Regions from separate parts of the Homo sapiens genome. Here region 2 is reported to be linked to region 1. Evidence: microRNA targets listed by miRTarBase, many of them from high-throughput screens and not tested one by one. Region 1 holds a microRNA gene; the other region holds the end of a gene's coding sequence.

The links. The annotated mature microRNA hsa-miR-671-3p reads UCCGGUUCUCAGGGCUCCACC and lies in region 1 at 2,261-2,281, shown strand. An mRNA with a match to its seed (bases 2 to 7 or 8) in the 3' UTR can be bound and repressed. Matches are read on the target gene's strand: a 7mer-m8 pairs with bases 2 to 8, a 7mer-A1 pairs with bases 2 to 7 and ends in A, and an 8mer does both.
Region 2: the mRNA of TMEM223 is a reported target of hsa-miR-671-3p. The part of its 3' UTR that is shown has no 7-base or 8-base seed match.

Annotation. Positions count from the first base shown.
Region 1 is chr7:151,236,228-151,239,621 of GRCh38, forward strand. It overlaps MIR671 (microRNA 671), which reads left to right and starts at 2,194; the gene lies at 2,194-2,311. CHPF2 (chondroitin polymerizing factor 2) reads left to right here. Exons shown (of 4, transcript NM_019015.3): 3 at 181-363; 4 at 1,147-2,595. The coding sequence ends at 2,454. It overlaps SMARCD3 (SWI/SNF related BAF chromatin remodeling complex subunit D3), which reads right to left. Exons shown (of 13, transcript NM_001003801.2): 12 at 3,169-3,270; 13 at 2,553-2,929. The coding sequence ends at 2,876. RefSeq lists an enhancer at 3,324-3,394.
Region 2 is chr11:62,787,888-62,791,281 of GRCh38, forward strand. TMEM223 (transmembrane protein 223) reads right to left here. Exons shown (of 2, transcript NM_001080501.3): 2 at 2,084-3,028. The coding sequence ends at 2,736. TMEM179B (transmembrane protein 179B) reads left to right here. Exons shown (of 5, transcript NM_199337.3): 2 at 1,136-1,323; 3 at 1,405-1,539; 4 at 1,714-1,792; 5 at 1,999-2,513. The coding sequence ends at 2,160. MIR6748 (microRNA 6748) reads left to right here and starts at 1,928; the gene lies at 1,928-1,998.

The DNA.
Region 1 (3,394 bases):
ACTTTCCAAAATGTGGGCAGTGAAAGAACTGGGGTTAAGCGAGGTGCTGGAAAGGGTGCCTCTTCTGTCCTCTGTTCTAACGCAGCAGTGCTAACAGATGTGAACACTGAGTATGGTTAAGGGCGGTTTGGGACTGGCAGCTCTTGTGTGTGTCATTGATTGGTCTGATTGTCCCTCTAGGGGCAGCAGTATCGCTCATTTGAACTGGCCAAAAATAGGGACCCTGAGAAGGAAGGGAGCTCGGCTTTCCTGAGTGCCTTCGCCGTGCACCCTGTCTCCGAAGGTACCCTCATGTACCGGCTCCACAAACGCTTCAGCGCTCTGGAGTTGGAGCGGGCTTACAGTGAAATAGAACAACTGCAGGTGAGCTGAAGAGGAGCAGGTGGGCAGAGGACCGCAGTCAGAGGGTCAGAGAGAGCCTGAGATGTCCAGGCGTGCAATGAACGAGCAGCTGGCAGTGGGGCTGGGCTAGGCCCTGTATAATGGCAGGGCAGGAAGAGGCCGACCATACTTAAATTTAAAGCAACTACAGGGACAAAGGTCTTTGGGGGTCCAAAGCAATCATAAGGTAAGCTCCCAGCACAACTTGAATGCAGCTAAAGGGGTTTGCAAGTAGACTCTGAGGATCAGGAAGCTCCGCACAGTGTTCAGACAGAATAGTTTTAGCTCCTCCTCAATAGTGCCTGTCCACTGAGGAGGCAAAAACTCTGAAGTTTCTTTACTTCTAGAACTGTCCCAAGAAAGCCCAAGGGTAGAAGGGAGAATTCTCAAGTTGAACGTCAGGCTTGGCAGAGGTGGAGTGTAGATGAAAACAAAGGTGTGATTATGAAGAGGATGTGAGTCCTTTGGGTGTAGGAGAGAAAGGCTGTTGAGCTTCTATTTCAAGATACTTTTACCTGTGCAAAAAGCACATTTTCCACCTCCTTCTCATGGCATTTGTGTAAGGTGAGTATGATTCCTATTCCATCTGCATTTTAGAGGTGAAGAATAACGTACAAGGGATTCAGTGATTAGCAAGGGACCCCTCACTAAGTGTTGATGGAGTTAGGACAGAGCTCAGCTGTTTGAATCTCAGAGCCCAGGCAGCTGGAGCTGGGTAGGATCCTGGAGCTGGCACTAATGTGAGGTGCATTCCCTCCAACCCAGGCTCAGATCCGGAACCTGACCGTGCTGACCCCCGAAGGGGAGGCAGGGCTGAGCTGGCCCGTTGGGCTCCCTGCTCCTTTCACACCACACTCTCGCTTTGAGGTGCTGGGCTGGGACTACTTCACAGAGCAGCACACCTTCTCCTGTGCAGATGGGGCTCCCAAGTGCCCACTACAGGGGGCTAGCAGGGCGGACGTGGGTGATGCGTTGGAGACTGCCCTGGAGCAGCTCAATCGGCGCTATCAGCCCCGCCTGCGCTTCCAGAAGCAGCGACTGCTCAACGGCTATCGGCGCTTCGACCCAGCACGGGGCATGGAGTACACCCTGGACCTGCTGTTGGAATGTGTGACACAGCGTGGGCACCGGCGGGCCCTGGCTCGCAGGGTCAGCCTGCTGCGGCCACTGAGCCGGGTGGAAATCCTACCTATGCCCTATGTCACTGAGGCCACCCGAGTGCAGCTGGTGCTGCCACTCCTGGTGGCTGAAGCTGCTGCAGCCCCGGCTTTCCTCGAGGCCTTTGCAGCCAATGTCCTGGAGCCACGAGAACATGCATTGCTCACCCTGTTGCTGGTCTACGGGCCACGAGAAGGTGGCCGTGGAGCTCCAGACCCATTTCTTGGGGTGAAGGCTGCAGCAGCGGAGTTAGAGCGACGGTACCCTGGGACGAGGCTGGCCTGGCTCGCTGTGCGAGCAGAGGCCCCTTCCCAGGTGCGACTCATGGACGTGGTCTCGAAGAAGCACCCTGTGGACACTCTCTTCTTCCTTACCACCGTGTGGACAAGGCCTGGGCCCGAAGTCCTCAACCGCTGTCGCATGAATGCCATCTCTGGCTGGCAGGCCTTCTTTCCAGTCCATTTCCAGGAGTTCAATCCTGCCCTGTCACCACAGAGATCACCCCCAGGGCCCCCGGGGGCTGGCCCTGACCCCCCCTCCCCTCCTGGTGCTGACCCCTCCCGGGGGGCTCCTATAGGGGGGAGATTTGACCGGCAGGCTTCTGCGGAGGGCTGCTTCTACAACGCTGACTACCTGGCGGCCCGAGCCCGGCTGGCAGGTGAACTGGCAGGCCAGGAAGAGGAGGAAGCCCTGGAGGGGCTGGAGGTGATGGATGTTTTCCTCCGGTTCTCAGGGCTCCACCTCTTTCGGGCCGTAGAGCCAGGGCTGGTGCAGAAGTTCTCCCTGCGAGACTGCAGCCCACGGCTCAGTGAAGAACTCTACCACCGCTGCCGCCTCAGCAACCTGGAGGGGCTAGGGGGCCGTGCCCAGCTGGCTATGGCTCTCTTTGAGCAGGAGCAGGCCAATAGCACTTAGCCCGCCTGGGGGCCCTAACCTCATTACCTTTCCTTTGTCTGCCTCAGCCCCAGGAAGGGCAAGGCAAGATGGTGGACAGATAGAGAATTGTTGCTGTATTTTTTAAATATGAAAATGTTATTAAACATGTCTTCTGCCAAACTGTTTTTAGGTCTAGGGAAAATTGAGTAAGGAGAAGAATCCAAGGGAAGGGAATGGGGAGTCGTCCCGAGGGACCCACTGCCTCCCCACCTTCTTCCCTTCCCCTTCTCTCCCCCTCCCCTCCCCAGTTTCCAATGACCACACGGCTGCTGTCAGATGAATGACTTTTAATCCAGCCCCACACCCCAAGGTGGCAGAGGAGTGATGCTGGAGCCCGGGGCAAAATGCTGGGGCCCGGGACACGGCTGAAAGTTCCGTCGTGCTGCTTATTTTTGGGCTCCTAGGTGTTGCGCACAACCAGCGACTGCTCCAGCTCCTGCCTGCGCTGCTGGATCTTTAGAGGAAGTGAGAACAGGAGCAGGTGTCAGTGTTCTGGTGAGTGATCAGGACAATCCCACCTACTGACACCGCCTGCCCTGAAAGAGCATCTGGGAGCAGGGAGGGCCATTGCATGGTGAGGCAGCGTGGTGAAGCTTTACTGTGGGGAGCTGCGAGGGCTGCCCACAAGCTGAACAGGGAGGTTTCTCTTGGAGTTGAGGATGGGGAAGCCTCAGGGCAAGGGTCCCTGCATACCTTGCAGTAGAAGTAGCGACTGACGGCCTCCTGGGACCAGGGCTGGTGGTAGAACTCAGCCCGGCGCTCCTCTTCAGGGTTGCCGGCTACATCTGTCATCACCTGGGAGGGAGCGTGGGGTGAGCCCTGAGCCCTGAATCCCCTCACCTGCCCCTGGAGTACAACGTTTACTCTCTTTCCCGCTGTGCTTGTCTTCCACTCCAGTACTCCCTGAGTCTCCCTCTTC
Region 2 (3,394 bases), not on the chromosome of region 1:
GTCGAGAAATAAAGCATAGTGTAGTGGAGATGATCAAGCTGCCACATGATTGTAGCACAGTGTGTTAAATGACAAAATGAGAGATGGAGAAAACGCTGACGTAAAGGTAGAAGCCAATAATTTACATCGTTTACCCCAGCCAGGTAATCTGGTTAATAAACATGGGTTCATTTAATGCCTATAAAGTAGGCACTAGTGTGCCTATTTTACACCATGAGAAAACCTCAGAGATCCGCCGGGCGCGGTGACTCACGCCTGTAATCCCAGCACTTTGGGAGGCTGAGGCAGGCGGATCACTTGAGGTCAGGAGTTCGAGACCAGCCTGGCCAACATGGCAAAACTCTGTCTCTACTAAAAATACAAAAATTAGCCGGGTGTGGTGGCTCATGCCTGTAATCCCAGCTACTTCGGAGGCTGAGGCAGGAGAATCGCTTGAACCTGGGAGGCGGAGGTTGCAGTGAGTCGAGATCGTGCCATTGCACTCCAGCCTGGGTGACGAGCGAATCTCCATCGCAAAAACAAAAACAAAAACACTGGCCGGGCCTGGTGGCTCACGCCTGTAATCCCAGCACTTTGGGAGGCCGTGGCAGGCGGATCACGAGGTCAGGAGATCAAGACCATCCTGGCCAACACGGTGAAACCCTGTCTCTACTAAAAATACAAACAATTAGCCAGGCATGGTGGCGGGTGCCTGTAGTCCCAGCTACTCAGGAGGCTGAGGCAGGAGAATGGCATGAACCCAGAAGGCAGAGCGTGCAGTGAGCCGAGATGGCGCCACTGCACTCCAGCAAAAAAAAAAAAAAAAAGCACCTCACAGATAGTTATTTGTTGAAGGATATACAAGGCCTGGGTTTACTCTAAGGTTTCTGCACAGAGACCATAACTTGTGAGGCTTCTCTGAAGCTCATTGCATTCTATATTCATTGCCTATTTTCTGATCCTTCTGGCCACTGCCGGTGTGATTCCCCAGCAGGCCCTCTCCATCAATATCCCTGTCCCAGAAATAGGAATTGACGGTGCACAAATAACTTCCTGGAATGCAGGACCATTCCTAAGTTATCACTAACACCCTACCAAGAGACTGTATCTAGAGACATTAACCTGAAATCTAGGACTCAGCAGCTTCTCTCCACAGGGCTCCTTCAGTGGTAGATGTCCCCTGTATGGTGTGGCCACCCTGAATGGCTCCTCCCTGGCCTTATCCCGTCCCTCAGCACCATCCCTGTGCTACTTTGTAGCTGGGGCCTCTGGCCTCTTGGCCCTCTACTGCCTCCTGCTTTTGCTCTTCTGGATCTACAGCAGCTGCATCGAGGACTCCCACAGGTGACTGCCTAACCCTGAGGGCCAGGGGCTGAGGTAGGATGAGCCTCACCTCCACCACAAGGCTTGTTCTCTCCCTTTCAGAGGTGCTATAGGGCTGCGCATTGCACTGGCCATCTCAGCTATAGCCGTCTTCCTGGTCTTGGTGTCTGCCTGTATCCTTCGATTTGGCACCAGGTCTCTCTGCAACTCCATCATCTCCTTGAACACTACAATTAGGTAATGGGAGAGGGAGGGAAGCCTGGCTGGGGCTGACTACCTTCCCTCTGCAGCGGGGTCCTATAATTTCCTTTTATCCCCATCAGTTGCTCTCAACTCACAGGGCACTGGGCACAGGTGTGCCTCGGATATAAACTATCACGCTTTCTCACAACTGTCTCTTTGACCTCACAGCTGTTCTGAAGCCCAGAAAATTCCATGGACACCCCCTGGAACTGCTCTGCAGTTTTACTCCAACCTACACAATGCTGAAGTGAGACCCAAGGATAGGAGGAAAAACTGACATAAATATCTGTAGCTGTGTGGGTGCTCACCAGTGTATTGTGAGCTTGGCCTACCAGTGAGAGGAGCTGAAGGGGTTGTCAGCTTAAAATTCAGCAGTTCAGAGTGGTGTGTGGGTGGGAAGGACTGGATTTGAAATGGTCCCACTCCTGACGATCCTGTCCCTGTCTCCTACAGACCTCTTCTTGGGTGAATTTGGTATTGTGGTGTGTGGTCTTGGTGCTCCAGGTCGTGCAGTGGAAGTCTGAAGCCACCCCATACCGGCCTCTGGAGAGGGGTGACCCTGAGTGGAGCTCTGAGACAGATGCTCTCGTTGGGTCACGCCTTTCCCATTCCTGAAGAATAAGCGGAGTGCTTCCTGCAGCCGAAGACTCCATGCCCAAGTGCCTGTAATCCCCCCCCTCAAGGCCCTGTTTATGTTGGGAGTCTTAGTTTTCCTTTCGTTGGGGGGTGGGGGGGAAACATAATGACAGGCCCCCCTCCACCTCTTCCTGCAGCTGTTTTTGTACCAAAATATTATATTACTGTCTTCATCTTAGTAGTGAGTTTTTGATGTTAAAGTACAACTAGATAGGAGGAAGGAGTGAAGGCTAAGCAGACATGGACTGAAACTTAGAGGTACTGTTAGGCAGCTGCCCTAGGGATGACTGCTCCTTTATTTGTTGTTAATGAATCTTGACCTCCTTGTGTGACCCTGGTTGTTACTCCATTCTAAGATTGGCGTTTTTTTTTGTTTTTTTTTTTGTAAATAGAGACAAGGTCTCGCTATGTTGCCCAGCCTGGGCTCGAGCAGTGCTCCTGCCTCACCCTCCCAAAGTGCTGGGATTACAACAGGTGTGAACCAACACACCTGGCTCCCCAAGGTTCAGTTTTTATCCTCCTCTTGGAGAGGTGAGTGACTTGAGGTCATTTCTTCACAAGCTCCGGTAGGCACCCACAGTATTGTCAAAGAGTTTTGTGTTAGGGAAGTGTCCAGTTTTGTCCAAGAGGAAATAGAAGCGTCGGCCTTTGACTTTCAGAGGTAGCATGGCAGGGACTTCACCCCGGTGGGCCATGCAAGATACCTGCTTCAAAGGAACTGTGAAATGGGCCCCCAAGCCAAAGGGGGCATGAGTGGTGAGGGTCACCTGCTGCCCTCCAGCTCGAAGCACCACTGAGCGCACAGACCGGAGAGAGAAGAGAAGACCAGCACCGAGTACGAGGGCTCCTGCAGGCAGGGCAGAGATTGGGGTGAGGGGTTTTCACTGGGCATCTAAGTACCGACCTTTCCAGTGCCCTCTGAATAAGAAATTTGTGGGATGAAAGTAGTATTTACTGAGCGCTTTTTTTTTTGAGACTGAGTCTCACTCTGCCGGCCAGGCTGGAGTGCAGTACTGAGCTCCTGTTATACCCAGTAATCTTGTTATTCCTCCCAACAACCTTAATAGATGTCCGTTTCCATTTTAATGGGAAGATGGAGAGCTTTAAGGACCTTGCTCAAGGTCGCAGAGTGAAGGGCAGCCCTCAGCCTAGGCTATGACAGGGCACGGCGCTCGGAGACATCACTGTTTCCCAATTTTTTTTTTTGAGAGGG